Homo sapiens: one gene and its partner. The protein of the gene in region 2 interacts with the protein of the main gene of each other region in a pairwise test. Each region holds a gene or a part of one and is shown on either strand. Other genes may lie near its edges.

What was found. Proteins that work in one complex are often made in the same cells at the same time.
Region 1: the proteins of INSIG2 (region 2) and SLC10A1 interact in a two-hybrid assay, tested with the Homo sapiens proteins (one large-scale study listed by BioGRID).

Annotation. Positions count from the first base shown.
Region 1 is NC_000014.9:69,790,742-69,794,241, forward strand, and holds part of SLC10A1 (hepatic sodium/bile acid cotransporter), read right to left. Parts: intron 1-3,500. UniProt on the Homo sapiens protein: As a major transporter of conjugated bile salts from plasma into the hepatocyte, it plays a key role in the enterohepatic circulation of bile salts necessary for the solubilization and absorption of dietary fat and fat-soluble vitamins.
Region 2 is NC_000002.12:118,105,471-118,108,483, forward strand, and holds part of INSIG2 (insulin-induced gene 2 protein), read left to right. Parts: intron 1-1,266; coding exon 1,267-1,433; intron 1,434-1,619; coding exon 1,620-1,719; intron 1,720-2,810; coding exon 2,811-2,852; coding exon of another isoform or gene 2,853-2,892; 3' UTR 2,893-3,013. UniProt on the Homo sapiens protein: Oxysterol-binding protein that mediates feedback control of cholesterol synthesis by controlling both endoplasmic reticulum to Golgi transport of SCAP and degradation of HMGCR.

The sequences.
Region 1 (3,500 bases), on a different chromosome or scaffold from region 2:
TTATTACCTGTTTTATAAATTATACTATATATAGGCCCTAGTAAGCACAGCAAAACAAGAAATAGAAAAAGTATAGGGATGGGAAAAGAAGAAATGAAACTTTCTTGTTTTGCCAATGATAGGATTGTCCACAGAAGAAATCTAAGTAATTTTCCATTATAACTGGTAAGTAAGAAAATGTATGAGGTTCTAAATACATTAGCATCAGTCAGTCAATCAATTGGGTCTGATATACTAGAAACAAATATATATATATTTTAAAAGACACCATTTATGATATTCACAAAACTAGAAAATACTTATACATCTAAAGGACATGTAAGATCTTTATGAAAGAAATTACAAACCTTTATAGAAAGGTATTAAAAAAGGCCTAAGTAAAAGAAAAGCTATATCATATTTATAGATGGGAAGATTCAATATTATAAAGATAGTCTCTCAATTTATATATAAATGTAATGCACATTTAATAAAACTTCCAGACTTATAATTTTTTTTGTAGACTTGAAAGGTGATACTGAAACTCAAGTGAAAGAGTAAAAGGCTAAGAATAGCTAACATGATTTTTTTTTTTTTTGAGACAGAGTCTCGCTCTGTCACCCAGGTTGGAGTGCAGTGGTGTGATCTTGGCTCACTGCAAGCTCTGCCTCCCGGGTTCACGCCATTCTCCTGCCTCAGCCTCTCAAGTAGCTGGGACTACAGGCGCCCGCCACCACGCCCAGCTAATTTTTTGTATTTTTAGGAGAGACGGGGTTTCACCGTGTTAGCCAGGATGGTTTCGATCTCCTGACCTCGTGATCGGCCAGCCTTGACCTCCCAAAGTGCTGGGATTACAGGCGTGAGCCACTGTGCCCGGCCCATGATTTTCAAGAACAAAGTAGGGGGACTTAACTTTCAGATAACAAAACTTATAAAATTGTAATTAAGAAAGTGTGGAACTGGTACAAGGGTAGCCACATAGACCCGTAGAAGAGAAGAGAGATCCAGACACAAGCCCTGCATTTATGAGAGAGATGTCATTACAAATACCTGGAGAAAAATTCACTCAACGTGGCTTGGAATCTTCTATTTGTATGGAAAAGATAAAATTAGTTCATGCCATACATAAAAATAAGTTCTACATTGATTGGAGCTCTCCATGTGAAAATCAAACATTTAAAACTTTTCAAAGAAAATACAGGGTAATATCTTTGTAACTTTGTAGACAGTAAATTTTTTTTTTTTTTTTGAGACAGGGTGTTGCTCTGTCGCCCAGGCTGGAGTGCAGTGGCATGATTTTGGCTCACTGCAACCTCTGCCTCCTGGGTTCAAGTGATTCTCATGCCTCAGCCTCCTGAGTAGCTGGGATTACAGGTGCACATCACCATGCCCAGCTAATTTTTTTGTATTTTTTAGTAGAGACGGGGTTTTGCCATGTTGGACAGGCTTGTAGATAGTAAAAGATTTCTTAAAGAAACCCCTAAAAAACATAAACCACAAAGGAAAAATATTGGCAAATTTGACTAAATTAACATAAGCAATCTATCAGACATTATTATCAAAGTGTAAAGACCAGCTCCAAACTGTGAATAGACTGTTGCAACATATATAAAACAATAACTTTAGAAATTAATTTTCAAAACCCACCCAAACCACAATCCCATAGAAAAACAGGCAAAGGACCCAATGTTTCCAGAAGAGGACACATGAATGGCCAACGCACACGTGGAAATGTGGTAGGCCTCCCATGAAATCAAATTTAAAACTACTGCGATCTGCTTCACTGTTTTCATTTGGAAAAAATTAAAAAGTCTGACAATTCCAAATATAGATGAAGGCACAGAGAAACAGGGATCTTCAGACACTGCTAGGGAACGTGTGAAGTGAACAATGACCTTGGAGACCTCTTAAAGATGTGTGACTCCCACGACCCAGCAGTCCTGCTTCAATTGCATATGCCCTCATGTGGGCAGAGGGACACACACAAGTCTGTTCACAGAAGCGAGACGTAAAATCCACATGAATCTGACAACAGGAGAATGGATAAATGCAAGCAAACTGCACAGCAGTTCAGATACATGAGGTAGCTATTTTCTTTACATGCCTATTTCTCAAAAAAAAAAAAAAAAAGCAAGCTGTTAGGTGATGTGGACAGTATAATACTGTTCGTACAAAATTAAAAGACGTAAATCCCGCAGTCTATCTTGTTTATGAATATATACGTATATAATAGTTGAAAAGGGTCGGTGGAAATGCTGAACACCAAATTCCCAGGGATGCTCCCTTTGGCAAGTGGTGGAGGGTAATGAGATTGGGAATAGGAATACAGGGGGTTTCAATGCTACTGTTGATCTTCTCTTAGGGAAAAGCCAAACACAACTTGTGTGTTTGTTCTGGTGACCTAGAGCAGAGGAATCATGCTTACTTTGGCTTGTGTGTCAGGAGTTTTGGAGTTTGGACTTGGTGTGCCTTGTCAGCTTGGGTATGCAGGAGCCATGTTCCCTGATCCCCAGGTACTTCCTCCACTTGCACAGGTCCTGGGGTCAGGTCAGGGACATCCATCTCCTAGCCTGCTGGCATCCGTGACTGTTGTGATCCTTGGTTTACCCCAAGGGACAGGGACGGGCAAGGACTTTTTCAGACTCTAGATTCCTGAGATTGTAGGCCTGGTTGCCTTTCAGGGGGAAAGGGGCACATTTGTTTTTTTTATTTTTCCCTCCTGCTTAAGTTCCAAGAGCACAGCATAGACCTTGCTTTTGGACATCTGTGTACCCCATTTAAGGGACTCGTTCGAGTGTCCGTCAATGCACAGATTGGAGGCAGAAGCTGAGGGAGCTGTGAGGGGCCTCAACACAGTCTCTATGAAGTGGAAAACTTCTGGGACCCCAGTGGCTTCCATCTTGTCCTGGTTGAGCTTCCTACATCATGGCTGGGAGACCTGTGGAAGTGCTTGGGTTGTGTCCAAGCCCATTGTCCCCATGGCCATTGGCTCTGGGCTCTGCTGTGAGTCCGATGGTGGCAGGGGGAGCAGATGAACTTGGGGCAGCAAGGATGGTCAAAAGAGGCCAGTTCCTGCTGGCATAGCACTCTCTTCTCTGTGCCTGACAAGCCATACTCACTTCAACTGTGAGGGCGTTTTCTCTTGCCTGTTTGTCACCTACATTTTTTGAAACTTGTCTAGTGGCCTTCCTTGAGGAGGGAGCTGCCGTCCCTGGCTGCATTGAGGGGTCTGCTTGGTGGCCTGGCCTCCTGGGATGGCAGGCTGTCCCCAGACTGACTCCACCTATGAGGCAGAGTGAGTGGAGGGAGACACAGTTTCCCACAAACTCTGGGAAACCTCTGGCAAGTCTCTGACCTCAGCCTCTTCATGTGTAAAATGGGATCTGTGTCTTACAATTCCTTCCAGTTCTAAATGGGATGTAGAGTATTGTGCTTATCTCAAACTGGGGCCTTTGGGCTACAGCTGGCCCTTTGACATGTATTGTTTGGTTTGCACATTTAAAAAAATGGAATGAGTTGCT
Region 2 (3,013 bases):
TGTTTATTTCATAGGGAAATCAGAGCTCTAAACCTTTTCTTTGAACTTTAAGTATAATGACAGCATAACAATAAGAAAAGCTTTTCCAGAAGCATACCCATATGAACTGTAGGTTTCTTTTTAAATCAAGCCTTAACAAGGAAGGACCTTGAGGGAGTTGCCCACAATAGTCCTGAGATTCTGAGAAATAAGCAAGCTGGGTGTTTAGGATACTTGCTTGGTAGGGGTGGGGAAATGGTGAAAAAGAGTGTTAAAGGAAGTGGGAAATGGCTTCGTTGCAATTTCTTTTTTGGATTTCTCTATACGTGCAGCATGGTCAGTTTGGTGATACGTGTTCTCCCAAACCTCCCCCGCCTTCCCCAGTAGCTGGTTATAGAGCCAAGATGTGGCCTTTGGGACATAGATAATGCCCTTTTAATGACACTTGAAATTAATTCCTTTAGTGTAATCCTCTAGCAAAGAGATGAGAAAACTGAATTTGTAAAGCTTAATTTTACCCAGAGATTTTGGTGTAGAAAAGGGCCATACATTTGTGAATAGATGCTTAAGTAGGTGATGAAAATAAAATATCATTTGAGCAAACTGTCCTATACCAGAAAGTCTCAGGCACCAAAATAGCTTGGCAGGTTGTAAGATAATGTTCACTTCAAGGCTTTATCCTCAACAAATTAAAACTAGAACAGTTGACATAATAGAAAGGGATACTGTGTCCTTGGTACTCTTGTTTCTGAACTGCATTATTATAAAATGTGTCTGTCAGTAAATCATAGAGAGAATGTGGTACCCTGTTAAATAGCTGTCAACTCTTCTATTTTCAAGTTCCTGTACGATTCTCAAGTAATTCTAAACCTGTTGGAGAAGTAATATTGGTTTCCTTTTTTGCAAAAGTGTGTTCCTTTAGTGATACTTGTGTTCTGAGGCTTCCAGTTACATTTTTAGCAAAGAAAGCATTTCTTAAATAATGGGTAAAGCCTTATAATTGGGAATGTATGTAGACTGTTCTTTTTGTTTTGTTTTGTTTTTTGTTTTGGAGGGGTTACAGTTGGTAGGATCTATTGATTAATGTCTTTTGTGTATCTGGTATTGGGTAAATACTGGAGACAGTTTTAATCCCACCTAGCTTCATACATTGTACTAAGAGACTGAATGTACTTGAGTAGAAGCAATTAATTCCCTTCTCAACAGAGGCATCTCTTATTTAGAAAAATGAACAGATGATATTATTTGGTTACAACTTTTAAGATGACTTCTTAACACTGATCTCAGAAAGTGGATTTCGATAACAACATACAGTTGTCTCTCACACTGGCTGCACTATCCATTGGACTGTGGTGGACTTTTGATAGATCTAGAAGTGGTTTTGGCCTTGGAGTAGGAATTGCCTTCTTGGCAACTGTGGTCACTCAACTGCTAGTATATAATGGTGTTTACCAGTAAGTATTAATCCTTCAATTTTTGGTGCTTGTTTGCTAGATAAATAAATGATAACCGCTTTCAGAATTGAGATTATGAAATGAGGTTAGCCAGTTTAATCTACAGAGTAGTTTATTTTCATTGTAATTATCTTAAGTGTCATTGCAGTTCCTCTGTGGGTATTAAAGACATGTCTGTTATTCTAGATATACATCTCCAGATTTCCTCTATGTTCGTTCTTGGTTACCATGTATATTTTTTGCTGGAGGCATAACAATGGGAAACATTGGTCGACAACTGGCAATGGTAAGCTGATGCTCACTTTTCTGAATAAGATGTGGAACAAATGACAAGTTTTCTCTAAAAGGCAGTCCTTTAAGGGAAAGCAATTTGTGAAGACAACATTCTTTGATTGCTTTTTTGCACTTCCATTGAAATAAATCATTTGGAAGAATTTAATCACAGGTGTTTTAAAAGTTGAGGAGCCACTGGAGAGAAAAACTCAAAATGTGTTATGGATAGGGCAATATGATTTATTGACCATATGGGGGATATTAGTGGTTTTTAAAAAACTAATCTACAGGTCTCCCACTATATCAGAAAAGGACAGTTTTAAAAGTTAAAAAGGTCACTACTAATAAGTGTGTTGCTACAATAGGTATACATTAGGACCACCTCTAACAAATCAAGATGTTTGATCATTTTAGTGATGAAGGAAAAGGAAAAGGCTAGGGAGTGACATTCAGAGGCCACAGCAGTTTTATGAATCAGTGCTGTCACTTTTACCTTTTTAGCCAGGTTAGGAGAATTGAGTGACTTACTTTGCTGTATTTTTGGTAAAATAGCCAACCAATTATCTTACCCTGTTGGTTTCCTTTATTTTGAATTGTGGGTGTACATTTTTATAGCTGTACTTTAAAAATGTTGTTTTGACTGGAAGCTTTTGTTAATGTAACAGATTTTTTCCTTTATATCATATAGCAATTTGAAAATACAGTGATCTGAGTTCACCACAACAGCCCTATCCTTAAGTTCATGAACTATTCTTTGCTAATTTGCCTTATTGAATACTCAAAGAAACCTGCTTTGCTTCCTTTCGACATTAAAAGATTGATCTAAATTCTAAATCATATACTGCCACTACTTGCTTGTAATGCAGAAATCTCATCTTTCTCTTGCTTTTGGCTGTGGCTTTTTCACTTCCAGAATGTGAATTATTTTTTTCCCTGTCACATTTGTCATTTAATCATAGTAATTATGTAACTCTTGGATTATTTGAGGAATAAATGGGCACATAGTAATAAAATGTTCATTTTTAGAGCTTTTCAGTTTATTTGGAAGTTGCTATTCAAAAGAAGTCTTAATCTGTTAACCTTTTAACCTTTTAATTTTTGCAGTACGAATGTAAAGTTATCGCAGAAAAATCTCATCAGGAATGAAGAAGGCAAAAAATATCTTTTGTACAGAAAAGCAAGATGAAAAGGATGTGAAATGGTAGATATACCAACAAAACTTCAGACTGTAAAATTGCCAGGATGCAGTTTTCCCCTTGATTGGCGTGTGTGTATATATGGATAAATATATATATACACACACACAT